Linked DNA regions of Homo sapiens: region 1 is linked to region 2. The links come from fine-mapping of genetic effects on gene expression. A gene starts in region 2. The other region holds a variant in brackets. All regions are shown on one strand. Distances are from middle to middle.

Evidence for each region.
Region 1: its variant is fine-mapped to the expression of NLRP4 in testis (GTEx, PIP above 0.99).

What each region holds. Positions count from the first base shown.
Region 1 is chr19:55,873,874-55,890,553 of GRCh38, forward strand. It overlaps NLRP4 (NLR family pyrin domain containing 4), which reads left to right. Exons shown (of 10, transcript NM_134444.5): 8 at 3,123-3,293; 9 at 4,921-5,091; 10 at 7,597-7,982. The coding sequence ends at 7,714. Among named protein-coding and RNA genes, the nearest start is that of NLRP4, 46 kb to the left of the region's middle. The variant C/T (reference allele first, on the strand shown) is at 7,681.
Region 2 is chr19:55,832,632-55,847,586 of GRCh38, forward strand. NLRP4 (NLR family pyrin domain containing 4) reads left to right here and starts at 3,909. Exons shown (of 10, transcript NM_134444.5): 1 at 3,909-4,303. It also overlaps a transcript of NLRP11 not described here.

The DNA.
Region 1 (16,680 bases), 42 kb after region 2:
TTGAAATGAAAAAGGAATATACTTTGCAACAAACTCAGATGGAGCTGTAGTGCATGTATATATTTTAAAAGGAATCTAAAGAATAATGAACTTAAGGATTTTTTTAATGGTAAAATAAACCCCCTAAAGGATGGAAGGAAATAAAAATAAGGACAGAAACTAATGAAACAAAAATCACAATGGAAAAGATCAGAAACCTGCAGGGTGGTTCTTGGAAAAAACAGTTTTTGTTAATGCCATCCTATAGAATATAATGCAAGCCACACATGTAATATTAAATTTTCAAGTAGCCATATTAAAAGTGATGTAATATTTGAAAGTAATTTTATAAGTAAATATTTGAAACTAATTTTAATAATATAGTTTATTTAGCCATATATCAAACATCACTTCAATATGTAATCAGTACAAAAAATTACTAATGAGAGATTTTACTTTTTTGTATTAACTCTCTAAGGTTCACTATGTATTTTATACTATGGCACATCTAGATTCAGACAAGCTACATTCCAAGTGCTCAGTGGTCACACGTGGCTGGCTATCACACTGAAGAGTGCAGGTCTATGTCAAGAATGGGAAAAGAAACATTACTACAGATGCTACAGATATTAAAAAGATTACATATGAGCAACTTTACACAATAAACTTGAAAATTTAGATATTTTCAAGACTCAATAAGCTTCTAAAATGATAGAACCTAAATGTACTCAAGACAAAAGAAAAATGAATCAGTCAAATCTTTTTATATAGAAAATTCCAGGCTTAGAAGCCTTCATTGGTGATTCTTACCAGACATTCAAAGAATAAATAATTCCACTCTTACATCAGCTTTTTCAGGATCAGAAGAGGAGAAACTCCCCACCATTTTTTGTGGCTAGCATAATCTTGATGCCAGAAACCAATAAGAATTTTATTGGTTGTAATATAATCCTTACAATTTTTGTAAGAAAGCAGAATTAAAGGCTAGTGTCATTCATGAAATGCAAAAACACTGAACAGAATATTAGCAAGCAGAATCCATAAATGTATTAAAAGAATAAACATAATGACTAAGTTGGGCTTATCCCCAAAATGTAAAGTTGCTTTAACATTAAAAAGATTAGTAAAAAAATCAATGTAAATCACTTTACTGGTTAAAAATAAAAATCATGATCTAAAATGCAGAAAAGTTTGAATTAAGACATACAATTCTTGAAAAACTATTTGGGAACTTCCTTGATGATCTAAAGAATATGTTCAAAAAAATCTAAAGCAAACATTTGTCTAATGATGAGAGAAAAGCTTTCTCTTCAATATCATGAAAAAGATAAGAACGGTGGCTATAATCACTTCTAGTCAACAGTGTCCTGAAAATCTTAGCAAATGCTTCAAGGTAAGAAAAACACTAAACCTGTAATCTTTGAAGAAACACCTAATTCTATACAGATGATTTGAATGTACATAGAAAAATCCAAGAAAATCTGTAGCTAAGTTATCAGAATTAGTCTAACAAGCTTGCTTGAAACAATATATCAAAAACAGTTACTGATATACCAACAAGAAGTAATAAGCTAGTGGAATTAAATAAAAGTACCTTTTACAGTAACATAAAAAAGAAATTACCTAGAAATAGCTACTGTGATATATGTGAGACTTTTATAGAGAATATGATCAAATTATGGTATAAAACAATGTTATATTCAAAGATTGAAATATTCAGTATCTAAAAAGTCAGTTTTCTGTAAGTTGAATTCATTTGCTTTCATGAAATCCCAGTGAAAATGCGATGTTTTTGTTTGGTGATTGAGTTGAACTTGAAAAGTAAATTTTAAAATGTGTATGGAACTTGCAAGAGGCCAAGAATACCTAAGAAACACCTAAAATATAAAAAGTGGGCCAGGCGCGGTGGCTCACGCCTGTAATCTCAGCACTTTGGGAGGCTCAGGTGGGTGGATCACCTGAGGTCAGGAGTTCAAGACCAGCTTGACCAACATAGTGAAACCCCGTCTCTACTGAAAAAAAAAAAAATACAGAATTAGCTGGGTATGATGGTGGATGCCTGTAATACCAGCTACTCAGGAGGCTGAGGCAGGAGAATCACCTGAACCCGTGAGGCAGAGGTTGCAGTGAGCTGAGATTGTGCCGTTGCATTCCAGCCTGGACAACAGGAGTGAAACTCCGTCTCAAATAAAAATAATGTAGGAACTCTTGCTCTAAATGTGTCATCTAAAGTTTTAGAAATTAAAAAAGCATGAGATTCACACAGGGATAAGCAGACAGACCAGAGACACAGAATAGAGATCTCAGAAACAGACTGATCCACGTGTGTTCAGATGTCGCATCATGGAATAGCGTATCACTGGTGCAGAGAGAGGATAGACCTCCAACAAACGATGCTGAGACAATTCAGTTGTCCCTCCATATCCATAGGAGGTTGGCTACAGATTTCCCCTGAGGAGTCCAAAATCTGTAGATGCTCAAGTTCCTAATGTAAAATGGCATAGTGTGTGTTTTGAGACAGTCTCTCACTTTGTCGCCCAGGCTGGAGTGCAGTGGTGCGATCTCAGCTCACTGCAATCTCTGCTTCCCGAGTTCAAGTGATTCTTGTGCCTCAACCTCCTGGGTAGCTGGGACTACAGGCACGCATCGCCATGCCCGGCTAATTTTTTGTATTTTTTGTGTTTTTTTTAGTAGAGATGAGGGTTTCACCATTTTGGCCAGGCTGGTCTGGAACTTCTGACCTCAGGTGATCCACCCACCTCAGCCTCCCGAACTGCTGGGATTACACGCATGAGCCACCGCATCTGGCCTATATAGTGTTTGCATATAATGTACAGGCATCTTCCCATAATACTGTAAATCATCTCTAAGTTACTGTGATATGTAATACAATGTAAATGTTGTGTGAACAGTTGTTATACTCTATTGGTTTTTTCGTTTGTATTTTTTAGTGTTGCGTGTTATGTGTTATTGTTTTAATTCTTCAATAATTTCAATCTGCCACTAGTTGAATCTGTGGATATGGAGGACTGACGGTGCCTATCCACATGAATGACAAAGGCTGTCGTGCTTTGGTGTCTCTTTTCCTGATATTAGACTGAGGTGTAATAGCCTTTAAGCATGGTACCCTTACTCCTTTGCAGTTTGGTAAAATGTTTTATCACTGCTGCTGGCTGTGAAGACCTCGCCTCTGCTCTCATCAGCAATCAAAACCTGAAGATTCTGCAAATTGGGTGCAATGAAATCGGAGATGTGGGTGTGCAGCTGTTGTGTCGGGCTCTGACGCATACGGATTGCCGCTTAGAGATTCTTGGGTGGGTATCGCCAAGCTCCTGGTTATGTTTTCATGAGTGGCAAAGACGGAAAATGGATGGGAAGAAAGAGAAAGATGAAAACTCCAACAGGACCACATAGCAGCTAGCTGTGGTTGCATCATGAACCAGTGTAAAACTTCAGGGCTTAAGGCAATGAGAAGTTAGATTGCTGCTGGCTCTGCTTGTCTGGGCAGGCGTCACTGACCTCAGCCAGGTGTGCTTAGGAAGCTGTGGTTAACTGAGGGATTGGCTGGTTTGGGTTGACCTTGCTATATGGTATGGAGGTTGGCTGGCTGGGTTGGCTGTCCCCTTGGGGATGACAGGTGTAACTGGGCCACGTCTCATTATCTAACTGGTTGGCCTGGGCTCATTGACATGGCATCTGTATCAGTTTGCCAGGGTTTAAAAAGTAGCATGGACTGGGTGGCTTAGGTAATGAATTTATCACTTCACGGTTATGGAGGCTGAAAGTCTGAGATCAAAGTGTCAGCAGAGTTGGCTCCTTCTGAAGGCCATGAGGGAGAATCTGCTTCAGGCCCTTCTTGTCTTGTCGATAACCATCTGTCTTCTCCCTGTGTCTTCATGTTCTCTTCCCTCTGTGTGTGTGTGTCTAAATTTCCTCTTATAAGAACACCAGTCATATGATTAGAATCCCCCCAGTGTCCTCATTTTAGCTTAATTGCCTCTATAAAGACCTTGTATCCAAATATGATCACATTTTGGGGTACTGGGGTTTAGGACTTCAACGTATAAATTTTGGCAGGGACAGAAATGAGCCCATAGCAGCATCTCAGGAGTTCAAGAGATGAAGTATAGAAAACATCCAAGATCACCAGGTGTGATAGCTTAGTCCTGCAGTCCCAGCACTAAAGGAGCCTGAGGCAAGCCAATAGCTTGAGGCTAGGAGTTCAAGAACAGGCTGGGCAACATGGTAAAACCCCATCTCCATAAAAATTAGCCAGGCGTGGTGCATGCCTGTAGCCCCAGTTACTCAGGAGGCTGAGGAAGGAAAATTGCTAGAACCCAGGAGGTCAAGGCTGCAATGAGCCATGATCATGCCACTGCACTTCAGCCGGGATGACAGAAACCCCATCTCCACAAAAATTAGCCCGCAGGCGTGGTGCATGCCTGTAGTCCCAGCTACTCAGGAGGCTGAGGCAGGAAAATTGCTAGAACCCAGCAGGTCAAGGCTGCAGTGAGCCATGGTCATGCTGCTGCACTTCAGCCAGGATGACAGAGACCCCATCTCCAAAGAAGAAAAACACCCAAAATGGTGGCTCAGAACTCTCCTAATCTTGCTTCCATTGTTATCTGAGACGGCTTCATACCTTTTTTTGGATAATATGTTATATTATCCAAAGCAAGGTATGAAGCCGGAAATAGACTCTGTTAGTGGAATGAGCTGCAAAGTCACATTGCTGTGGGCAGGGATACAGAGAAGAATGGACACTTATGGCTACTTTTACCACCTACCCACAGACGCGTGATCTGAGGTCGTAAACACTGGACTGTGAGAGATTGCACTTGAGGCAATGGGGTGTGCCTCAACTAGACGTCTAGCTCACATCCCATCCTACCTCCACCCTGAGGCTGGGGCCGCATCTTACCATGTGTCTTTTTATTGCAGGTTGGAAGAATGTGGGTTAACGAGCACCTGCTGTAAGGATCTCGCGTCTGTTCTCACCTGCAGTAAGACCCTGCAGCAGCTCAACCTGACCTTGAACACCTTGGACCACACAGGGGTGGTTGTACTCTGTGAGGCCCTGAGACACCCAGAGTGTGCCCTGCAGGTGCTCGGGTGAGCTGGGGTCTGTTGTGCTCTATGGGCAGAGTGCTCCGGGCTAAGAAGGGATTGGCTGGGACCTGCAGTGTAATCACGTTGCATTTAAAATGCAAATGATGTTCCTTGTCTCAGGGTTGTTGCAGGAGTAAGAACCAAGCAGGTGAGTATAAAACTCTTACCACAGTAAGTGGTGAACAGTGAATGTCCAACAAATGGAAACACTTGTGAAGTGGCCTCATTGTCTGGGGTAACACCCGAGGTTCATTGTCCCAGGGCCGTGGAGATCCAAGGACGCAGAGATCCAAGGACGCAGATACACAAAGAGTGAGGTTAAGAGCAGAAGTTTAATAGGCAAAAGAAAGAAGAGCTGTCTGCTACAGAGAGGGGTCTCGGAAAAATGGATTGCCCGATCCATGGTGAAATGCAGAGGGTTTTATAGACGAGCTGGTGGGAGGTGTGGTGTCTGATCTACATAGGGCATGAAAAACTGGTTAGGACCAGGTGTGCCGTTTGCATAGGGTGTGAATTTCTGGCAGCCCCCACCCCAGTCTTTTATTAAGCAGGCAGGTTCTCTGCCTGAGCTGCACTATGTTGCCCATTTCTTTCTTACTGTACCCATGCTAATAAAAAAGGGAAGATGGTGCTTCCATGGTGAACAGGCCTGGCCCCCAGGTAGCTCTTTTCACTGGCGCAGCTGCTGGCATTCCCCCCATGCAATCTTCGCGCTCCCTTATTTATGTTTGCAGCTCAGTTTTTCAGGATGCTCTTTGTTAGAAAAGAAATGATTTCTTGGGCTGGTTTTTGTTAGAAGGGAAGCTCTGCTGAGGACTTTTGCCCTCACTATCTGCCTAAATAATTTTTTACCTCCTATATCACTTATTATTATAATACAAATTATGATACATGTTTATATTTTAAATATTTATGTGTAAATACAAGTTATATGTATATTCATAAGTATAACATTTATAAATAGAAACTTATATAAACATAATTTATATTTTAATTTGTTATATTTATAATTACATATAATCCCACAAACATTATTTTACTAGATAACTATAGAGTCCTTAACATTTTTCTCATTCATTTTCCCCTACTGTTTTCAAACCAATATGAGATGAAGGTAATCATAGGCAGTTATTAGGCTGTTCATTTCCAGAAAAGGGAAATATAATGGGTTAAAACTGTTATAACTCTAACGCTAAAGAACATTCACTGATTTTTTTTTTTCCATTTTGTGAAGATACAGGTTTGTTTTCTTGAAGTCCATCCTTATAAATCTCCACCTGGAAAGGCTGAGTGCTTGGCATTGTTTCTTTCTCATTTTAATGTTTGCTAAAGATTCAGAATGTAGACTACCAAAGTAGACACGTGATTAAGGGGAAGGACTCAAATTGTCTGCATTCTGAGTCACGGAGGTCTGTGTTTGTCTCCTAGCCTTGCCATGTTTGGCCCTGTAAGCCAGGGTAAGGCATTTGTCCTCTTTGATTATCAGCCTCCTATCTACAAAATAGGGATGATTATTTGGCATGGTAATTATGAAAGTATGCATCAGATAATGTGATAACTATGGCAGAACTAAATAAGTGAGTTTTCATCTTCCTCCAGCCCCTACCATAGATAGTCTCACAAAGATGTGTATTAAGATACATAGTTGTGCTAAAGAACATAGCTTACCCCAACAGTGTGGGACAGTTGCACGCAAACAGATGCCAAATGGAGATGAGAGATATTATACGTAAAAGGAAGGACCAAGACACGGTGATACTTAATCCTTCTGATTCAAAGCAATGATACAACGTATGGGGGCTCCAGAAACAAATTGCTTGAATTTGTATCCAGACTACCACTTTCTGGTTTTGTGACCTTAACATTGTTCTCATTGTCTTCATCACAAGTCGGGACAATTATGCTACCTCATAAGGCAGTTGTGAACATTTAATGAGATAGGCATGTAAAAAGCCTTAGCAGAGGGCCAGGGCCCAGGTACTCGGATAATGGAAACTATTAACTTTATCTTTGAAAAAGTAAAAATAGCTTCAGTCTTTCTCCCTAACTCCCACTGACTTCTTGTTGCAAATCCAAATGTTTGTGTGGAGTTCATGCCTTCTATTACCAATTCTGGACATTTATTTATGTCCAGTGACATATTGGAGCCAGCTCCTACAAGCTGGTGAGAGCCACGTGTGTGTGTGTGTGTGTGTGTGTGTGTGTACCTGTCTTTGTAACTCTGTTTAGTGACAGCAAGTGGGCAGCTCAAAATTGGCCATGATTGCCTTGGAGAATTTACACCACAGAAATTGGCAAAGCTATAAATTGGGACTTTATTTATTTTCTGGGGATCCAGGGGTAACATTTATCAGCATACCGCTGCATTTGATGTGTATGTCTTTCCTCTTGGAGGTAACACCAGGGTTTCCTAGGCTTGTCCTGGGATGAATTAGGGAGAAAGATGAGCTGCAGAAAAGGGAAAAAGTATGTGAATTAAAAATAGAACCTCTTAAAATATTTTACCAGGCTGAGAAAAACTGATTTTGATGAGGAAACCCAGGCACTTCTGACGGCTGAGGAAGAGAGAAATCCTAACCTGACCATCACAGA[C/T]GACTGTGACACAATCACAAGGGTAGAGATCTGATTGCGAGGAACCTGGGCTCTGACTCGAACACCTGCAAAGGACAGGGACTGGGACCGTTACTTACATGACACTGCACCCAGGAGATACAAATCATTGATACTCTGAGTTGTGAGATTTCTGGCACCCCATTCATAGATTTGATATGATACACGTGGTTTTTATGTGCTCTGTGGCCTTGGATGAGTCACTGAAAGGCCTTCATGGTCTCTCGGTCTCACAAGGACCTCTTAACCCCTCAATAAAGTGTTACATTTCTAAACATTGGAAATTCTTTTTTTGCCTTTTTTTATTTGTATAAATTTAAGGGGTACGAGTATGGTTTTGTTACATGTATATATTGTGTGGGAAAATCTGGGCTTTTAGTATACCTATCACACAGATAGTGTACATTGTACCCATTAGGTCAGTTCTCACCCTGCACCTCCCTCTCACCCTCCTGAGCCTCCAATGTCTACTATTCCACACTTTTTTTTTTTTTTTGAGATAGATTTTCGCTCTTGTTGCCCAGGCTGGAGTGCAATGGTGCAATCGCGGCTCACCACAACCTCCGCCTCCTGGGTTCAAGCGATTTCTCCTGCCTCAGCCTCCTGAGTAGCTGGGATTACAGGCATGCACCACCACGCCTGGCTAATTTTGTATTTTTTTTTTTTTTTTTTTAAGTAGAGATGGGGTTTCTCCATGTTGGTCAGGCTGGTCTTGAACTCCCGACCTCAGGTGATCCACCTGCCTCAGCCTTTCACAGTGGTGGGATTACAGGCGTGAGCCACTGCATCCAGCCACTCTTTATATATTATTTAGCTCTCACATACAAGTAAGAACATGCATTATTTGACTTAGTTTCTGAGTTATCTCACTTAAGATCATGGCTTGAGTTCCATCCATGTTGCTGCAAAAGACATGATTTTATTCTTTTTATGGCTGAATAGGATTCCACTGTCTATAAATCATGTTTTCTTGATCCACTCATCTGCTGGTGGACACTTATGTTGATCCCATGACTTTGCTATTGTGGAGAGTGCTCCAGTAAACACATGGATGCAGGTATCTTTTTAGTATGATTTCTCTTGCTTTGGATAGAACTCGGTAGTGAGGTTGCCGGACAAAATGGTAGCTCTATGTTTAGTTCTTTGGGAAATCTCCATACTGCCTGGAAAATCTTGAAACAGTGTTTGCTACTGATGAATGACTGGAATAGGAGTGCAGGTTGAAGAAACTGTGGCCCCCTCCCCGTGTTGACTTGGAAAGACGCTGGCCACACTGAAAGCACTAGAAAGGCTGGTCTGACTTGGGCACCCTTCTTTCTGCCAGTCCTACTAGGATTCCAGGTTGGGCTCCTGATCTGTTCTTGCCTGATGAAAGCACCTTTTTTATTGGTACATAATAGTGGTATATATTTTGGGGTTCATGTGAATGTTTGGGTAATTTCCATGGCATTGCTAATATTACCTCTCCTCACGGTCTTTGCCTCTCATATTCTTCCCCAAACTCCCCTCTGGCTCTCCTTTCCTCATTGGGCCTCTTGAGTTCTGAGGCTACCCTGTCTCCCCTACCTTTGAATAAAGATCTCTTGGGAGTGGGAGCTGAAAGGAAATTTTAGGAATGGGGGTATTTCACTTCTGAATTTTTTTTTTTTTTTTTTTGGAGACAGATCCTCGCTCTGTCACCCAGGCTAGATTGCAGTGGTGCGATCTTTGCCCACTGCACCCTCCACCTCCCGGGTTCAAGCAATTCTCCTGCCTCAGCCTCCCGAGTAGCTGGGATTACAGGCGCGTGCCACCACACATGGCTAATTTTACTATTTTTAGTAGAGACGGGGTTTCACCATGTTGGTCAGGCTGGTCTAGAACTCCTGACCTCATGATCTGTCCTCCTTGGCCTCCCAAAGTGCTGCAATTACAGGCGTGAGCCACCGTGCCCGGCCTCACTTCTGAACTTCTGTGCCACTGATTTAGGAGTGAAGATTGAGAAAATCAGCAACCTGAATGTCCATCAATGGGTGAATGGATAAACAAAATGTGGCATATAAATAAAATGAAATACTGAGTCTTCAAAAGGAAGGACATGCTGATATATGACACAACATAGATGAACCTTGAGGATATTATGCTAAATGAAATAAGCCAGTCACAAAAGAGCAAATACCGTACATTCTCCTTCTATGAGGTACTTACAGTAGCCAAATTCATAGAGGCAAAAAGTAAAATGTTGGCTACCAGAGGCCAGGGGAAGGAGGAGAAGATGGAGTTATTTAATGAGCATAGAGTTTGTTTTGCAAGATGGAAAAGTTCTGGAGATGGATGGTGGTGATGGTTGTAAAATGTGAGTGTGCTCAAGGCCACAGGGATGTACACTTTAAATGGGTTAAAATGGTAAAATTTTGTTACGCATGTTTTACCACAATAAAAAGAAAGTGGGGAGGCTGGGTGCAGTGGCTCATGCCTGTATTCCCAGCACTTTGGGAGGCCGAGGCAGGTGGATCACCTGAGGTCAGGAGTTTGAGACCAGCCTGACCAACGTGGAAAAATCCTGTCTTTATTAAAAATACAAAAAATTAGCCGGGCGTGGTGGTGGTGCATGCCTGGAATCCCAGCTACTCGGGAGGCTGAGGCAGGAGAATCGCTTGAACCCAGGAGGCAGAGGTTGCAGCAGGCAGAGATCATACCATTGCACTCCAGCCTGGGCAACAGGAGTGAAACTCCATCTCAAAAAAAGTGTGGAAAGAAAAATAACAAACAGGAAAATCTGGGAAGTCATTTAGTCTGTCATCTGTAAAGTGGTAATGATTAAGGACTATCTATTGCACCTGGGTGCAATAGACGTGATAAAATATAAAAGCAGCTTGAGGAACCAAAGAACCTATTCTCCAGCTACCTTAATTATGTTCATGAGATGTCCATTTCCACCCCCAGCAGGAACATTAACATTTTTCTCCTAACGGTTTTCCCTCCACTAAAAATACAGGTCAGTAGAAAAGAGGGAGAAGGAAGTGCTGATAGAGAACGGGTACTGAGCTGCCCAGCACAGTGGTTTACGCCTGTAATCCCAGCACCTCGGGAGGCCAAGTCAGGAGGATCGCTTGAGCCCAGGAGTTAGAGACCAGCTTGGGCAACATAGAGAGACCCTACCTCTACTATCTATCTATCTATCTATCTATCTATCTATCTATCTATCTATCTATCTATCTATATCTATCTAGAATTATTATTATTATTATTTTTTAATTATCTGGGCGTGGCGACTCATGCCTGTGGTCCCAGCTACTCAGGAGGCTGGGGAAGGAAGACCACTTGATCCTGGGAGGTTGAGGCCGCAGTGAGCCGCGATCACACCACTACACTCTAGTCTGGGTGACACAGCAAGGCACTGTCTGAAAAACTTTTTTTTTTTAATCACAAAAAAAGAGGTACTAAGCTATAAAAAGTCTAAGTTACAAGTAAAGAATCTTAATGACAGAATTGAAGGAGATTATTCACCCAAGAGCTATTAATACATTGACAGGTGCTTACCACAAGCTGAATATTTTATATGTTATTTCAATTCTTGCAAAATCTGAGGTTGATGCTATAAGACCCTTCTTGTAATGGGAAAATTGGCCTAAAGGGTACAAGTAACTGCTTCCAAGCTAAGAAGCTGTCACTCTGGCTGCCTTCACCCTGGGAATCCTTTTCCACCCAAGTTCATTATTCCTGGAATTCCATCTGTCTCTTCTTCAGTCCAAGGATCTCCTGGGCTGTTTCAGCACTCTACCACCTCTGTCTCTCATAACCTGAGCTGTGCACCAAGCTTGACTCACCTCAGCCACACATTAGTCCTGGGCACATCTAGCCAAGCTTTTAAGATTGCATGGTTGGCCGGGTGCAGTGGCTCACGCCTGTAATCCCAGCATTTTGGGAGGCTGAGGCAGGTGGATCATGAGGTCAGGAGTTCGAGACCAGCCTGGCCAACATGGTGAAACCCCGTCTCTACTAAAAATACAAAAATTAGCCGGACACGGTGGAACACACCTGTAGTCCCAGCTACTGAGGAGGCTGAGGCAGGAGAATCACTGGAACCCAGGAGGTGGAGGTTGCAGTGAGCTGAGATTGCACCATTGTGCTCCAGCCTGGGCAACAGAGCGAGACTGTCTTAAAAAAAAATTGCAAGGTGGTGGGTGAGGAAGTGAGTGTCAAAAAAGACAGCAAGCAGGGTGGGTAAAAGGAGAGGGAGGAAAGGTAAATGAAGCTGGAGACACAAATAATCCGTCTACCTTCCTCATAAGTATAGGCTTGAAGTTAGACAATTGGTCACAAGCTAATTGGTCTGTCTTGGTTCACGGGCTTCATAATTTGGAGGCAGCCTAGAAAAAAGTTCAGCAGTCAAGGTACACTGGAATCCCTTCTATCTCATCTCTTCTCTTTTCCTGAATCACCAATTACCCCTTCCAAACCCCCTCCAAGACCTATTATGGGCCCCCCCAGTCCTACAAAGTAACATTGGCCTGACTGTACAGTGGATTTGAAATCATCTGTCTACTCTAAAAAAATGTTGCTTTAAGATACTTTGATGTAATTGAATTCTAGGACAAACTTAGAAATTGTAGAATAACAACAAAAAAAATTCCTAAATTAGTAATTGAGTAGACTAAATATGATTGACTTGAGTATTGATTAGTAAATTGAAAATTTAGTAATTGAGAATTTGTGGATCAAGCATTAAACAGAGGATATCCCTGTGTTTTTGTCTGTTTTTTGAGATGAAGTCTCGCTCTGTCACCAGTCTGGAGTACAGTGGCGCGATCTCAGCTCACTGCAGCCTCTGCCTCCTGGGTTCAAGCAATTCTCCTGCCTCAGCCTCCTGAGTAGCTGGGACTACAGGTGCCTGCCACCATGCCCAGCTAATTTTTATATTTTTAGTAGAGACAGGGTTTCACCATGTTGGCCAGGATGGTCTCAATCTCTTGACCTTGTGATCTGCCCACCTCGGCCTCCTGAAGTGCTGGGATTACAGGTGTGAGCCACCATGCCAGGCCATCCCTGGTTTTTTGTTTGTTGTTGTTGTTTTTTTTCTCTGAGACAGAGTCTCGCTCTGTCACCAGGCTGGAATGCAGTGGCATGATCTCTGCTCACTGCAACCTCCACCTCCCGGGTTCAAGCAATTCCTCTGACTCAGCCTTCTGAGTAAGTGGGACTACAGGTGCGCACCACCACACCTGGCTAATTTTTTTTTTGTATTTTAGTAGAGACGGGGTTTCACCATGTTGGCCAGGATGGTCTCAATCTCCTGACCTCGTGATCTGCCTACCTCGGCCTCCCAGAGTGCTGGGATTACAGGTGTGAGCCACCGTGCCCAGCCCATCTCTGTTATTTTTAAAGAAACAATGGAGAAATCTTGGGATAGTCTTTATTTATCTTGTCAGATTATCAGAAATAACATGGTTGGCCAGGTTTGGTGGCTCACGCCTGTAATCCCAGCACTCTGGGAGGCCAAGGCTGGAGGATCGGTTGAGCTCAGAAGTTTGAGACCAGCCTGGGCAACATGGCAAAACCTCATCTCTACTAAAAAAAGTTACATGGTGGCACACACCTGTAGTCCCAGCTACTCGGGAGGCTGAAGTGGCAGGATCCCTTGAGCCTGGGAGGCAGAGGTTGCAGTGAGCCGAGATGGTGCCACTGCACTCCAGCCTGGGTGACAGAGTGAGACCCTGTCTCAAAATAAAATATGGCCCATTTTAATAGCTGGTAACTGAATATGAATCAATGAGATGAAGATTAAGGCAATTAACCTTTGATTTTATTTTTAACCTTTATTGCCCTGACAATATTTTCTAAATTAGTTCACATACGTCTCCCACTCTTTCTATCCCAGATTTCATCTACAAAGGGCAGTAAAGATATAGAAAAAGGAAGAGAATGAAGTATTTATTTCAAGGACTCTGGGTTTTACTATGTCTAATAGTGAGAACATGGATGGATAGAAGGATTATAGCCTTCAACTTATTGAAAGATCCCATCAGGTGTTGTAAAGTGGGTCAGATCTTAAAATAGAAAAGTTGGATTTATAGGCCAGTTTGACTTACTATCTCTGTAATCTGTTGTAAAGCATTTTCTTTTGGTATCTTTGCTTTTAAATCAGTAAAGTAAGGCTATCCTATCTTACAGGGCTTTGATGGGGATTTAGACCCTCTAGGAAGGTGTTTTATAAGCTATGAAATGCTAAATGGATCTCCAGCTATTCTGTAAGACTGCTTCTGATAGCGTCTGCTTATTGAATAATAAAATAGTACAAGAAAGACTCTTGGTGTTAGAGCGGGGGAGAGAAAATTACAACTTAATAAGATCTTATTCTTCATAGAGATTTCCATCCATGACACATCGATTTCACATATCCTGTGCGGGATACAGTTTTATATTTTCAGGTGAGTAAAGTACATTTTAGAAGTGTTACACAGCCACAGAGCTAACAAAGGCAGAAGTGAAAGCCAAAATTGGGTCTAATTTAATTACAAATTATTTCTGTCCTCATCATTTTGAAGATGAGGTAATTAGGTCCAGAGAGGGGAAGTGACTGACCCAAAAGTAACAAAATAAGGAATTATCCTGGGGTGTAAAGACAGAGTCTGTGGCCGGAGGCAGACCATATTTCTGTGCAAATGGATAGGACAGAGTGGTGGTGAGTTCATGGAGGAAGGACGGAAGACCACATCATTGGCATCTAACAACCAAACTGATTAAGAAAAACTTTATTTTGGCCGGGCGTGGTGGCTCACGCCTGTAATCCCAGCACTTTGGGAGGCCAAGGTGGGTGGATCAGAAAGTCAAGAGATCGAGACTATCCTGGCCAACATGGTGAAGCCCCATCTCTACTAAAAATAATACAAAAATCAGCTGGGCATAGTGGTGTGTGCCTGTAATCCCAGCTACTCGGGAGGCTGAGGAAGGAGAATCACTTGAACCCGGGAGGTGGAGGTTGCAGTGAGCCAAGATTGCACCACTGCACTCCAGCCTGGCAACAGAGCGAGACTCTGTCTCAAAAAAGAAAACAACAAAACTATTTCAGATGGATAAAATAAGCGAAAGGGAGGTGGTCCTTACGATGGTTTTGTATTAACCTGAATATTATTCCTGTAAACAGGGTCCCATTCTACCTCCATGTCCTGCACATCTGCAGAATAGAGAAGGAAGACTTTTACTTTCTGGAGAAAATTTATTTCAAGTCTCCTTGAGCAGCAATCTTAAGTCTCAACCCATAGCATCCAATCCTTTGTGTATTAGAGGGTTTACCTCTCTTGTCCTGCAGCTAACTCAGGTTGACACTTTCTATGCCTCAGAGCCTTTATTTTTGTCTTATCAGGGTACAGGTGCTGGTAGATGTGGCAGTGGGTACTTGTGGAAGATCTGGATTCTTATTTCTTCAAGAAATATGTAAAATCAACTGAGCATGAAAATGGAGAACTGTTGAGGACAATGGAAGTTGAGTAGAACGGGTTAAAGCAGTATGTTACAGTATCATGTGCAACAGTACCATAAGCAACGGTAAGAAAACTCTTAGGATTAGCCATAAATTTAAGCAGGGTTGAACATCCTTCAGCATGTTCAGCTATCTGGATACAAGTGTGGAATACGTAGAACATTGGAAAAAGGCTTGTGGTTTTAAGTGCATAGGACAAAGTGAGAGGGGCAGGCAGAGCATGGAAGATGTTTAGACAAATTTGAGGGGCTGTTTGGAGTACCGTCAGCTAAATAGATAAACTCTAAGCAGGGTGAAGTATAGCAAAAAGGCAGCTGTCTTCAGGAACTGAGAAGGGTTTGGGGTGTTATTCTACTTATGAGCCAAAAAGCCTGTTCCTGTTTCATGGAAGCTAGCAGAAGATATGAGACTCCTGGCCCAGAAACAAATAATTTTATCATCCATGACAAAAGCATGAGTCAGTATTTCTTGTTGCTTTTAATCAGTTCCTCATACTTCCCAAGTCTCACAGCTTTGGGTGCCATAAAGGGTCCATGATAGATGACTGTACCTGCTGTAGACTGGATTAAGAGAAGCATGCTGAGCTTAGGGAATCTGCCGATTTTCAATAAGCAGAACAAGCCTGCTTTTTGTCTGGGGTAGAAAGTTACCTTATCCCTCAAGTTTGCTCAGTGCAAACACAACCTGGCAAAAGTCCTTGGCAAAAAAACAAAAATTAAAAAAAAGAAATTTAAAAGTCAGGGTCCAACATTTTATGCATACCCATAAAGAATGTACAGGGGTGCTTAGGGCCCATGATAAACAGCCTCTTGCTATAGTATATCAGTGAGAATGGAATCTACAGATTAATCTCTGGTTAGAGTCAGTCAGGAAGATATGAAGTGGTTGTTGAAGAGGCAAATGCCAATTAAAAGTGAAACTACTAGGCCAGGCATGGTGGCTCACGCCTGTAAACCCAGCAGTTTGGGAAGCCGAGGCGGGTAGATCACAAGGTCAAGAGATCGAGACCATTTTGGCCAACAGGGTGAAACCCCATCTCTACTAAAAATACAAAAAGTAGCCGGGTGTGGTGGCGCATGCCTGTAGTCCCAGCTACTCGGGAGGCTGAGGCAGGAGAATTGCTTGAACTCAGGAGGCGGAGGTTGCAGTGAGCCGAGATCGCACCACTGCACTCCAGCCTGAGCGACAGAGCGAGAGTGTCTTAAAAAAAAAAAAAAAAAAAAAAAAAAACTACAAAATAGTTGGAATTTCTGGAGTTTGAGCATGAAGGAGGCTTAGATACGGCAGAAGATACTGTCGTTGAAGATGCAGTCACACAGGGATGTCCGATCTTTTGGTTTCCCTGGGCCACGTTGGAAGAATTGTCTTGGGCCACACACTAATGCTGGCTGATGAGCTAAAAAAAAAAAAAAAAACAAAAACAAAACAAACAAAAAAAAAGTCTATGCATACGAAAGTTTATGAATTTGTGTTGGGACCTCATTAAAAGTGGGCCCAGGCTGTGGGTTGGACAAGCATGG
Region 2 (14,955 bases):
ACAGATTACAGAAGAATAGGGGCATCTTCATAGGTGCAAAAGGGGAAATATAAAAGAGTCTATATCTATTCATGGTTTTAGATGTATCTTTGTAAGTTAGGAAATAAAAGAATTTCCTTCACCCAGTAAAGGGTTCCAAAAAAGCAAGAGCAAACAAAAATCTCATAATGGACGGGAAAGTGATGAAAGAATACCTTTTACAATAAGATACAAGATAAACAAGGCCTCCGTCACCACTCTTATTTCAACATAGTGCACCTGTTCACTGGGACAAGAAAACGGATCTGAAAGAAAGAGGCGAAATTATCATATTGGAGATAATTTGAATATCCATGCAAACTCTCTCCCCTTAAATCTATTGATAAATTGTTAGGATTCAAAGCAGCTTTGGTGAATATAAATCAACATACAAATCTGATTGTGTTTCTCTAAAAAAAAACTAATTGGAATTTAAAATTTTAAAGGATGCCACATGCAGTTCCAAGAAAAATATAAACTAGAAATAATTCTTATAAGAGATTGTAAATCTTATTGAATGATATACAATGTTATTGCCATATACAAAATCCTTAAAAATGAAGGATAACATTACATTCTTGTACAGGAATTATTATTATGAAGATGTTAATATGCTCCCAAATAGACCTTTATATTCAGTAAAACAATAAAATCCCAATAGAAATTTTCATATCAAAATATAATTCTGAAATGTATGTGGAAAATAGAAGGGACTAGTACAAGCCAAGAGACGCCTGAAGCACATAGGTGGGTGGGAGGTGGGAATGATGATTGAGTTGGACCTACCCTATAAAGATTTAATTTAAAAACTATGGTAATTAAGACTTATTGGTTGGCCGGGGGCGGTGGCTCATGCCTGTAATCCCAGCACTTTGGGAGGCTGAAGCGGGCAGATCAGAAGGTCAGAAGATCGAGACCATCCTGGCTAACACGGTGAAACCCCCGTCTCTACCAAAAATATAAAAAAATTTAGCCAGGTGTGGTGGCGGGCGCCTGTAGTCCCAGCTACTCGGGAGGCTGAGGCAGGAGAATTACTTGAGCCCGGGAGGAGGAGCTTGCAGTGAGCCGAGATCAGGCCACCGCACTCCAGCCTGGGCGACAGAGCGACTCCGTCTCAAAAAAAAAAAAAAAAAAAAAAAAAAGACTTATTGGCACACGGATGAACAAATAATAGTGAAAAAAACATAGAACCCAGAAACCAATGTAGGCAAATACGAAAAGCTGGTTTATAACAGATTTCTGGGCAGTGGCGTAGGTGAACTATTCATTAAATGGAGCTGGTGCCATTTGTATTTAAATGAAAAAAAAAAAATGGATCCCTTCTCCCTACCTTAGAGAAAAATAATTACAAGTGACTTAATACTTCTGTGTGAAATTCAAAACTCTATCATATTTTAAAAGGCAATATTAGATATCTTCATGAGTTGGAGTAGGGAATGATTTTTGTCAACAAGACCTCACATTTATAAAACATAAAGTACATTTTGATCAATTTGATTTCATTTAAAATAAAAACTCTTCAGTGAATGGTTCTTATATAACAAAAGCTACAAACCACAAACTAGGAGGAGATATATGAAAATACGTGCATCACACATAACTGACCAAACCACTTTTTCAGAAAAGGTAAAGCACTTCTTCATGCAAATAAAAACAGAACACAACCAATAGAAATACAAGGAAAACAATGAAAAGGTATTTCACAAAAGAGGCAACAAATGGCTCACAAACATGAGAACAATGTTCAAGTATATTAATAATCAGATAAAAGCAAATGAAAACAACAAAATACTTTTTCCAACTAATATTTGGTGACTACTTTAAAATGTCAACAACATCAGGAGTAGGCAGTAAGGTGCAGCTATGGGGATATTCAACTGTGCATGATGCTAATGTAATTAGTGAAACCACTTCTGAAGAGGCAACTGAAGTCACCTGTGCCTCAGGGACTCAGTCATTCCACTCAGGTAATCCAAAAGTCCTGTGGGCTCACTGATGTGTGCAAGAAGGTTCAAAACAGCATTGTTCATATTGGCAAAAACTGAGAAACCACCCAACCACCTATCACTGACAGAATGGATCATTAAATGGTGACCTAGTCATACATTTAAATACCGTGAGGCAAGACCTAGAAATGAACCGCAGCTATAACAAACTCGCATTGATTAATCTCAAAAACATAATAAGTGAAAAGAATCAAGTCACAGAATGATACACTATAATTCGAAAATGAGGAAAACAAAACATATCTCTTAGGGGAACATGTATCACCAGGAAAAATAAAAAGAAAATCGAAGGGAATGAAGTTCACTTCACAACTGGAAATTTATTTTGGTGGGAACCCCTGAGGATGCAACGGGCATGCTCTTATGGGTACATGAGTCTGCAAAGGTCCCCATCATGTCTGCTTCCCAATCTAGGTTCTGGACCACAGAGACTTGTGTTATGGTTACAGTAATTCCTTAAAGTTCTCATTATGTTTCTCTGCACTCCTTGATGTGTATATTTCAAAACCAGGATCATCACCATCGTAACACTGAACTCAGGATTCTTATAAGGAGGAACTAAAATGGTGATTGTAAAAGGATAGCTCCTAGGACACTGAGGTTTGGCGTGAACCCAGAAGATGACTGTAACGATTGTAGGGAAGCTGGAATAGCAGGAAAACCATGCCCAATGATGAAATCTCGACCTTGCGTCTAAAAAACTTAGCGCCTGTTCTGCCTACGCAGAAAGACAGTAGCCGATATCCATTAAGTTCTTCTTGCAGGCCAGGCACAGTGGCTCATGCCTGTAATCCCAGCACTTTGGGAGGCCGAGGCGGGCAGATCACTTGAGGTCAAGGGTTCGAGACCAGCCTGGCCAACATGGTGAAACCCTGTCTCTACTGAAAATACAAAAATTAGCCGAGGCCAGGCACAGTGGCTCATGCCTGTAATCCCGGCACTTTGGGAGGCCGAGGCGGGCAGATCACTTGAGGTCAAGGGTTCGAGACCAGCCTGGCCAACATGGTGAAACCCTGTCTCTACTGAAAATACAAAAATTAGCCGAGGCCAGGCACAGTGGCTCATGCCTGTAATTCCGGCACTTTGGGAGGCCGAGGCGGTCAGAACACTTGAGGTCAAGGGTTCGAGACCAGCCTGGCCAACATGGTGAAACCCTGTCTCTACTGAAAATACAAAAATTAGCCGAGGCCAGGCACAGTGGCTCATGCCTGTAATCCCAGCACTTCGGGAGGCCGAGGCGGGCAGATCACTTGAGGTCAAGGGTTCGAGACCAGCCTGGCCAACATGGCGAAAGCCCGTCTCTACTGAAAATACAAAAATTAGCCGGGCATGGTGGTGTGCATCTGTAATCCCAGCTACTCAGCAGGCTGAGGCAGGAGAATCTCTTGAACCCGGGAGGTGGAGGTTACAGTGGGCCGAGATGACGCCACTGCACTCCAGCCTGGGTGACCGAGTGAGACCGTATCTAATAATAATTAATAATTTCTTCTTGCACGACAGGTTTAGTTACGGCAGAAAGATGTTGTGCCACACGAACATTCTTCAAGGAGTTTAGCATGTAGGAAGGAATTAGACATTTAAATTATAAACAGAGTCACCCCAACTCTCCAAATGAACCATTTTGGAGAGACTGGAGGAGCATCCCTGCAGCCGTGAGCCCTGGGAATTCTCAATAGGAACCTCCAGCTTGAAATATCCCCCGCTCTATACGACACCAGGAGCAAAGGTCTAGAACAGCCCCTCAAGGGGCGGTGGGCGTTTCGCTTCACATATTTTCTGGATCTGTTCATCAAAAGCCCTCTGAGCCAATGGCAAGGGAGCAATTCGTTGGCCAATCAAATGGCACCACGGATCTTTTCTTCCCGCTTCCAGCCGCCAATCATTAAGGACCAGGAAGGCGTGGAGCGGTGAGTCAGCGCTTCGTGCTGGGCTGTTCGTCTCTTCTATGTGCTGATTTCCTGGGTTACTTTGGGTCTTCCTTTTCTTTCTCCCTTTTACCCTGTCTCCTTTCTTGAGGCTGATCGATCACAGCCAGGCCTCTCCATTCTATTTACCCAGCGTTTTCCTTCTCTCCAGTTAGTGGGGTAGATGAACGCCCTGTGTTTATAAGGTGCCTCCCAGGAGCCTGAGACCTGTGAGAAGAATGGGGGGTGGAGGTGGGGGAGACTCGTCACGAAGGGAGACCTTGGAGCTTCGAGGGTGGGAATGTTCTTATTAGATTCTTCATCTCTGTTGACACAAACATGTAGGAGAAGCTGGAGAACATAGACAGGGATGAGGTAAGGGGGGGGACTTCCCATGAAAGGTGGGACCCAAGCCCTCTCTGCTCTTGTGAGCTTGCTCTCTGACCTAGGGCAGAAACGTCTTTGATACTGTAATTCCAGAATGTGATTTAAAAAGAAAATCACACTTCTAGTTGACTCATACTAATTATGTATATTAGCTGCAGAGAGATGTGTTGGTACATGTATACGTATCATTAAATCAGGGTAATGAGCATATCCATCTCCTCATACCTGTATCATTTCTTTGTGTTAGGAACATTCAGAATCCTCTCCTTAGGTGGGAGGAGGGAGAGGGTCAGGAAAAGATAGCTATGGGGTCCTATTCTTAATACCTGGGAGATGAAAAACTGTACACCAAACCCCTGTGACACGAGTTTACCTGTATAACCAGTGTATATGTACCCCTGAACCTAACATAAAAGTTAGAAAAACCCTCGAAAATAATAAGATATTAAGTATATTCAACCTATAGTGCTACTGAACACCAGCACCTATTCCTACCTACAGGTGTAACTTGGTATCCATTAGCCAACCTCTTTTCATCCCCCTTCTCCAATTATGCCATTTGTTTAGACTATGAAACGTATATAGAAAGAATATTTATCTTTCTATATCAATAAAAGTTGGTTTTTACTGTTAAGGGTTGAATTGTGTCCCAACCCTAAAAACACACACACACACACAAAGTCCTAACCCCTTTATAGGGTGACAAAATAAGGTTGTTGCAGATGTAATTAGTTAAGGCGAGGTCATACTGGAGTGAGTGGCCCCCCTAACTTAATGACGGGTGTCCTTATGAAAACGGCCACATGCGGCTGGGTGTGGTGGCTCATGCCTGTAACACCAGCACTTTGGGAGGTTGAGGTGGGTGGATCATCTGAGCTCAGGAGTTTAAGACAAGCCTGGAAAACATGGCAAAACCCTGTCTCTACTAAAAATACAAAAATCAGCTGGGTATGGTGGCAGGTGCCTGTAATCCCAGCTACTCAGGAGGCTGAGGCAGGAGAATTGCCTGAACCCAGGAGGTGGAGATTGCAGTGTGCCGAGATTGCACCATTGCACTCCAGCCTGGGTGACAGAATGAGACTCGGTCTCAAGCTGGATGCAGTGGCTCACACCTATAATCCCAGCACTTTGGGAGGCCGAGGCGGGTGGATCACCCGAGGTTGGGGGTTCGAGACCAGCCTGACCAACATGGTGAAATACAAAAAATTAGCCAACTGTGGTGGCGCATGCCTGTAATCCCAGCTACTCAGGAGGCTGAGGCAGGAGGATTGCTTGAACCTGGGAGGCAGAGGTTGCAGTGAGCCAAGATTGCGCCATTGCATTCCAGCCTGGGCAACAAGAGTGAAACTCCATCTTAGAAAAAATGGCCACATGAAGGTAGAGACAAGCAGAATGGCATGTGACAAAGTCAGAGTGAAATTACATAGCTGCAAACCAAAGAGTGACACAGGTTGCCAGCAAACCACAGAAGCCAGTAAGAGGCAAGGAAGGGCTCCCCTGGGTTTCAGAGAGAGCAGCACCCTGCCAACACTTTGATTTTGGACATCTAGGCTCCAGAACCATGAGACAGTAGGTTTCTGTTTTAAGTTACCTAGTTTGTGGTACGTTGTCATGCCAGCCCAAGGAAGCTAGTACGCTATTAAAAGAAAAAAATGATGTGATTTTACACTTAGAGAACAGCTTCAAGAATATATCCTTAGGATCACCAAATGTTAAAAGTTTACCTTATATGGTGTCCCTCTACTCTTATATAAGTATTTTTCCTGATCTGTTCAAGATTTGTACACATTGTACAAATTTACATCTAATAATTTACCCTAAATGCTTCAGGGTTTATCTTCTAAAAATAAAAATAAAAGTAAGCTCTTTTGATAACCACACTATATAAAAAACAGGAAATTAATAGAATGATATTATCTAATGTACAGATCTTACACTTAATGGACTTTTTAATTTTTGCATTTGTTTTCACAAGTAGACCGAACATGGAAATTCTTACACTAAGCCTGTTTTTTTTTTTTCTTTTTTTAAATTTAAGTTTTGGGATACATGTGCTGAATGTGCAGGTTTGTTACATAGGTGTACACGTGGCATGGTGGTTTGCTGCACCTGTCAACTGGTCATCTAGGTTTTAAGCCCCACATGCATTAGGTATTTGTCCTAATGCTCTCCCTCCCCTTTCCCACCCCTCACCCACGGGCCTCAGTGTGTGAATGTTCCCCTCCCTGTGTCCGTTTGTGTTCTTATTGTTCAACTCACACTTCTGTGTGAGAACATGCAGTGTTTGGTTTTCTGTTCCAGTGTTAATTTGCTGAGGATGATGTAAACCTGTTTTCATTATCTAACCTATGCCTCAGTTTGAGTGTGTGTGTGTGCTCTTTCACACACATATACACACATGCTTATGCTCTCACACACACATACCCACACACATGCTCTCTCTTAGATTCTGGAAAAATAATTTTTATTTAAATTTTGACATAATTTGCTGATGAAGATGTTTGAGCCTGAAGTCTTCTGTGGGGGAAGAGTTAAAAAAAAAAAAAAAAGCTTTCAAAACTTCACACACACAAAATAGATGAAAGTTGTCATTTTCTAAGAATTTATATATTTGAACAAAATTATCAGTTTTATTGGCATAAAAATGGTAATAGTCTCAATTTTTGATATCTGTAGGGTATGTAGTGGTGTCTTCTGTTTCTGGTATTAATTGCTCATGTCTTCTTATTCATCAGACTTGTTGGGGGTTATCCAGTTTGTATTTTCAAAGAATCTACTTTTGACAGAGTCTTGTATTTTAATTTTTATTTCATTGATTATTTTTTCTACTTTCTTTTGGTGTGTTTTGCTTTTTATCTAAATGTATAATTAGTTTATGAATTTTCAACCTTCCTTATGCCTTTGAAGTAGCACATTTTTCCAGCTCCTGATTTAGCTGTATTTCACTCACTTCATATGCAACATTAAATATTCAGTTCAAAATCTTATATCCGATATTTTCTCTTTATTCATAGATTACTTAGAAGTATGTTTCTTAATTTTGGAATGTCCTTCATTTCATTGTCAAATTCTGACTTAAATTATGATCAGAATATTCTGTGTAACTTATATTATTTGAAATATGTTGAAGCTTGCCCTGAGGATCAGTATATAGCTGACATTGGTAGCTGATTCGTCTATCTTATAGTGTTTTTTCCATTTATTGAATGAAAAGGTCTGTGTCCACAAGGTAAAATTTTTCCATTGTTTTTAAGCCCTTTATTTTCTTTTTAACTTGTTTGTTTAATTGCTGGAACAAATTGATAAAATATCCTGCTATGATTAGGGACTTACCTAATTCTCCTTATGGTGCTGACCATTGTCGGGGGTGTGTGTGTATAGACATATGTGTATGTGTATGTGTGTGTGTGTGTGTGTGTGTGTGTGTGTGTATACATATTTTCTTTTTTCTTTTTGAGACAGAGTCTTGCTCTGTTGCCCAGGCTGGAATGCAGTGGTGCCATCTCAGCTCACTGCAAGCTTTGCCTCCCGGGTTCAAGCAATTCTCCTGCCTCAGCCTCCCGAGTAGCTGGGATTACAGGTGCCTGCCACCACGCCCAGCTAATTTATTATTTTTTATTTTTTGGTATTTTTAGTAGAGACGGGGTTTTACCATGTTAGCCAGGCTGGTCTAGATCTCCTGACCTCGTGATCCGCCCACCTCGGCCTCCCAAAGTGCTGGGATTATAGGCGTGAGCCACAGCACCCGGCTGATCATTCGTATATTTTAAGGCTGTGTTATTGTTGCATGTATGATTATAATTGTTCTCTCTTCCTGGTAATTTGAGCCCTGTGGTTATGCAGCATCTAGATTTCTCACCAATGTTTTGGCTTGGGGTCTGCTTTTCTGGTATCAATATTATGACAACAGATTTTTTTAAAAGCCTGGAATAATTCAATATCTTTTCCTTCTAATTCAAGTCGTGCAATAAATGGAATGGATGAAGAGTTTGGTGAGTAAGATGGGTTATCATACCTTACGTATGCATGACATGCTATTTTGTTCAGATTTCCCATTTAAAAATTTCTTAAATTGACATATAATTGTACATATTTATGGGATACAGTGTGATGTTTGGACACATATATCCATTGTATAATGATCCAATCAGGGTAATTATCATATCTGTTTGTTTAGACACATTTCTTTGTAGTGATACTCAAAATCTTCTAGCTATTTTGAAATATCCGCCACACTGTTATTTGCTTTAGTTACCCTAATTTGTAAGAGAACACTAGAACTTGCGCTTTCTAACTGTAAGCGTGCCTGTTGACCAATCGCTCCTGGTCTCCCGTTACTCTCCCATCCCTTCCCCAGCCTCTAGTAACCACTGTTCTACTCTCTACTTCTATAAGTTCATCTTTTTAGATTCCCCATATAAATGAGATCATATGGTAGTTTTCTTTCTGTGCCTGCCTTATTTTACCTCGTGTCCTCCACGTTCATCCAGGTTGCCACAAATGGCAAGATTTCATTATTTTTTATGGCTAAATAATATTCCATTGAGTATATATACCACATTTTCTTTATGCATTCATTTATTGATAGGCACTTAGTTTGTTTCTATATCTTGGTTATTAGTAATAGTGCTGCAGGCCGGGTGCGGTGGCTCATGCCTGTAATCCCAGCACTTTGGGAGGCCGAGGCAGGCAGATCACGAGGTCAGGAGATTGAGACCATCCTGGCTAACATGGTGAAACCCCATCTCTATTAAAAATACAAAAAAAAGTTAGCCGGGCATGGTGGCAGGCACCTGTAGTACCAGATACTTGGGAAGCTGAGGCAGGAGAATGGTGTGAACCTGGGAGGCAGAGGTTGCAGTGAGCCGAGATCGTACCACTGCACTCCAGCCTGGGTGATAGTGCGAGACTCTGTCTCAAGAAAAAAAAGGTGCTGCAATAGACATGGAAGTAAGGATATCTCTTTGACATACGAATTTCCTTTTTTAAAGAGGTATATACCCAGCAGTAGAATTACTGGGTTATATGGTAGGTTCTATTCTTAATTGTTTTAGAAACCTCCATACTGTTTTCCATAGTGGTTCTGCTAACTTACATTCCTACCAATGGTGTGTAAGAGTTGCCTTTTCTCTGCATCCTTGCCAACATTTGTTATTTTCTTTAGCCATTCTAACGGGGTGAGTTACCCCAGATTTTTTAGGTTCAAATTTGCATGTTTAGTCTTTCAACTTTCGTTTTTCCGTTCTTAGTTACCTCTTTAAAGAGCAAGTATTTGGTTTTTGTATTTAGTCTCACCATCTTTGCCTCTGTACCATTGAGGCAATTATTCTGTGTAATTACTAATAAGAGTTCGAGTTGACCATCACTTTTTTATTTACCTTATCTGTTCTAGGTTCCTATTTCTGTCCTTCTTTATTTTTTAGGTTAGTTTGTCATTTTTCCTCTTCTCTATTTACTTTGGCAGACAAACTTTTTTATGGTTATATCAGAATTCTATCAGTGGGCTTATCAGAATTTCTTATCAAATTTTTACTTCTGTCATCTTCCCAGAGAAGAACATTAGAGCACTTGATGTCCTTTTTCTTTTTTTTTTAGATTTACGTGCCAGCTGTGATAAATTTTAATTCTATTTTCTGTCTCACAAGACTGACTCTATAAAGCAACTTGTCTTCTAATTGACTGTGGCATCTCTTAATTTTCACCTGCAATAATTTTCCTTCTCTCCAATGGTCAATTTTCAAAATTTCCTATAGTGTAAGTCTTCTGTTGGAAAATTTGTCATTTATCTGCAAATGTCTACTTTTATTTCTTTTTATTTTATTTTTATTTTTGAGATGGAGTGTTGCTCTGTCACCCAGGCTGGAGTGGAGAGGTGCGATCTCAGCTCACTGCAAGCTCTGCCTCCCGGGTTCACGCCGTTCTCCTGCCTCAGCCTCCCCAGTAGCTGAGACTACAGGTGCCCGCCACCACGCCCGGCTAATTTTTTGTGTATTTAGTAGAGATGGGGTTTCACCGTGTTAGCCAGGATGGTCTTGATCTCCTGACCTCGTGATCCGCCCACCTCGGCCTCCCAAAGTGCTGGGATTACAGGCGTCAGCCACCGTGCCTGGCCTTATTTCTTAAAGATTATTTTATTCTGGTTAGACTTGAGTCAGCAGCTATTTGTTTTGAGCACCTTGCATGGTTGCTTCTTTAGTTTCTTCTTTCTGTAGCACCTGATCAGGTCAGCTGTCAACATAATGGCACAACCGTTCAAATAAATTATTGTCCTCCCCTTGCCTTACCCCCACTCTGGAATGCTTTCAAGATTTTCCCTTTTGTGTAACTTCTTTATGTTCTAATGTCATTATGTTTCCCTATAATGTGTCTAGACATGGGTTTGTTATTTATACTCTTGGACTTTATTGGGCTTCTTAATTAGTAGATTGATTTTTTTTTCATTGGTTAATAGAAACATCCAGGCCAGGCACAGTGGCTCACACACCTGTAATCCTAGCAGTTTGGGAGGCAGAGGCGGGTGGATCTCCTGAGGTCAGGAGTTCGAGACCAGCCTGGCCAACATGGTGAAACCCTGTCTCTACTAAAAATACAAAAAATTAGCCAGGCGTGGTGATGGGCACCTGTGATCCCAGCTGCTCAGGAGGCTGAGGCAGGAGAATCACTTGAACCTGGGAGGTGGAGTTTGCAGTGAGCTAAGATTGTGCCACTGCACTCCAGCCTGGGCAACAAGAGTGAAACTGTCTCAATTAAAAAAATTATAAAAAGAAACATCCTAGTAGCAATCTTATATTAGGTTGGTACAAAAGTAATTGCGGTTTTTGCATTTTTTTCATGGCAAAAACCACAATTACTTTTGCACCAACCTAATAAAACATACTACATCTGGTCCACAGTCTCTTTTCTCCTTTTGGGGAGCCAGTAACAAGTGTTAGCCCTTTTCATCCTTAGTCTCTTGTCCTCTCTTCTGTGCTTTTCATCTTTTTATCTCTCTCTTCTTGGATGACTTCTCTTTACGTGTCTTCTAGACCACTAATTATCTCTGTCAAATCTGATACTAACACATTGTATTAGCTTCCTGGGGCTGCTGTAACAACATACCACAAAACAGACAGCTTAAGCAACAGAAACTTACTGTCTCACAGTTCTGAAGGCTAATAAGTCCAAAATCAAGGTGCTGGCAGGCGTAATTTCTTCTGAAGACTGTGAGGGAGAATCAGTTTATTCCTCTCTATTAACTTCTACTTGCTTTAGGTGTGCTTTGGTTAGTAAGTGGCATTTTCCCTGTGGCATGGTATCCTCTTCCCTCTATTCATATGTGTCCAGATTTTCCCCTTTCTTTTTTCTTTTTATTTTTCGAGATGGAGTCTCACTTTATTGCCCAGGCTGGAGTGCAGTGGCATGATCTCAGCTCACTGTAACCTCCCGGGTTCAAGCAATTCTCCTGCCTCAGCCTCCTGAGTAGCTGGGAAGACAGGCACATACCACCACTTGGCTAAGTTTTGTATTTTTGGTAGAGATGGGATTTTACCATGTTGGCCAGGCTGGTCTTGATCTCCTGACCTCAGGTGATCCGCCCACCTTGGCCTCCCAAAGTGCTGGGATTACAGGTGTGAGCTACTGTGCCCGGCCAGATTTTCCTCTTTCAATAAGGTCACCAATTATATTGGATCGGGGGCCCACCCTGCTTTAGTATGACCTCATCTTACATGTTCCAGTACAGCTAATTGCATCTGCAAGGATGCTATTTCCAAACAAGCCCAGACTTCAGTTGCACTTTGTGACCTCCAGTGTAACTCATTGTATCTACGAGTATGCTATTTTCAAAAACTTCATACTTCAGCATGTAACTTTTGCAGGGGGACATACATTGGATGCAGAAAAGAGTCCCTGGTGATTTTTGTGGTGGTAGTGGTGGTAGAGGAGTGTGTGTGCGTGTGTGTATGCATGTGTGTGTGTGTTTGGGGGAATATTTAAAGTTCCATCTGTAGCCAATCTGAATGCAGTCTTTCCCCTCACTTTCAGAGGATCTCTTCCCAGAGCCGGAGGTATTAATATTTCAGCCTGTGGCAAGAGGCTACACTTTTTTTTAATTATTATACTTTAAGTTTTAGGGTACATGTGCACAACGTGCAGGTTTGTTACATATGTATACATGTGCCATGTTGGTGTGCTGCACCCATTAACTCGTCATTTAGCATTAGGTACATCTCCTAATGCTATCCCTCCCCCCTCCCCCCACCCCATAACAGTCCCCAGTGTGTGATGTTCCCCTTCCTGTGTCCATGTGTTCTCATTGTTCAATTCCCACCTATGAGTGAGAACATGCAGTGTTTGGTTTTTTGTCCTTGCAATAGTTTGCTGAGAATGATGGTTTCCAGCTTCATCCATGTCCCCACAAAGGACATGAACTCATCATTTTTTATGGCCGCATAGTATTCCATGGTGTATATGTGCCACATTTTCTTAATCCAGTCTATCATTGTTGGACATTTGGGTTGGTTCCAAGTCTTTGCTATTGTGAATAGTGCTGCAATAAACATACGTGTGCATGTGTCTTTATAGCAGCATGATTTATAATCCTTTGGGTATATACCTAATAATGGGATGGCTGGGTCAAATGGTATTTCTAGTTCTAGATCCCTGAGGAATCACCACACCGACTTCCACAATGGTTGAACTAGTTTACAGTCCCACCAACAGTGTAAAAGTGTTCCTATTTCTCCACATCCTCTCCAGCACCTGTTGTTTCCTGACTTTTTAATGATCACCATTCTAACTGGTGTGAGATGGTATCTCATTGTGGTTTTGATTTGCATTTCTCTGATGGCCAGTGATGATGAGCATTTTTTCATGTGTTTTTTGGCTGCATAAATGTCTTCTTTTGAGAAGTGTCTGTTTATATCCTTTGCCCACTTTTTGATGGGGTTGTTTTTTTCTTGTAAATTTGTTTGAGTTCATTGTAGATTCTGGATATTAGCCCTTTGTCAGATGAGTAGGTTGCGAAAATTTTCTCCCATTCTGTAGGTTGCCTGATCACTCTGATGGTGGTTTCTTTTGCTGTGCAGAAGCTCTTTAGTTTAATTAGATCCCATTTGTCAATTTTGTCTTTTGTTGCCATTGCTTGGTGTTTTAGACATGAAGTCCTTGGCCATGCCTATGTCCTGAATGGTAATGCCTAGGTTTTCTTCTAGGGTTTTTCTGGTTTTAGGTCTAACATGTAAGTCTCTAATCCATCTTGAATTAATTTTTGTATAAGGTATAAGGAAGGGATCCAGTTTCAGCTTTCTACTTACGGCTAGCCAGTTTTCCCAGCACCATTTATTAAATAGGGAATCCTTTCCCCATTGCTTGTTTTTGTCAGGTCTGTCAAAGATCAGATAGTTGTAGATATGCGGCATTATTTCCGAGGGCTCTGTTCTGTTCCATTAGTCTATATCTCTGTTTTGGTACACTCTGATCTTGACACTGTCTCCACATCAAGAAAAGTCCAACTCTAGTTGCCTGCTTCTCCAAGATGGTCTCAGAGCAAAGCACCAGCAATGTTCTTGCCCAAAGTCATTCTTTAAGTCAGTGGTTTTCAAATCTGGGCATGCGTCAAAATTAACTGACATTATATATAACTGATGTTATATAACAGATATATAACTGATATTATATATCTAATATCATCACTAACTATTTGCCCAAAATTAACAGATGGCTGTGCCCTACCCTCAGCATTTAGTGTGTCTAGGGAAGGACCTGGGGATTTGCATAGCAAGTTACCAGTTGGTGCTGATGTTCCTTGGAGAAGTATTGCCTTAGGTGCTCAGTGGTGGCCTCAGGACTCAGATACATGTTCCTATAATTAAGATTTTACTAAAAGTAGGCTTTTTAAGACTATTGGCAAAAGCACGCAGGGGAGAAGCCATGAAGGTCACCTTTCCATCATCATATTCTCATTCCGAATACTGCTTAATAATTTTCCCTAATTTTTGTGGGTTTTATTTATTTATTTTGAGACAGTCTTGTTCTGTCACCCAGGCTGGAGTGCAGTGGCACAATCTTGGCTCACTGTAACCCCCACCTCCCAGGTTCAAGAGATTCTCATGCCTCAGCCTCCTGAGTAGCTGGGGCTATAGGCGCCTGGCTACTTTCCCCTAATTTTTGGATCTTAGATGCTATTAAATTTTTTTTAAATTTTTCTCCAAATTACCTATTTTATTTGAGGGGGGGGCAGCAACATTCTGCCTAATGGCCACCCATGAATAAAACAGCTTTATTTTTATTTTCCACTGTATAACTTAACCCTTTTATTGACTTTGCTATTGATCTCTAATTTCATTGCCCTTAAGACAAAGAAGATGACTTTGCTACTGTTGGCTTTTTGTTTTTGAATTATGATTTCCTTTAAAGCTCAGAGCATAATTGATTATCATGAGCATAATTACAAGCTAATTGATTATCATGAATGTTCCACGTATGCTTGAAAAGAATGTTCTCTTGTGTGTAGGATTCCATAAATATTCATAAAATGTGTTGATTTTTATATATCTAATATGAATAACTATTTGCCCTATGTTTTTAGTATCTTTTAAAATTTTAGACTTGTTTTAGACACAGAAAAGTTTGCAAAAATAGTGCAGAGAGTTCCCATAAAT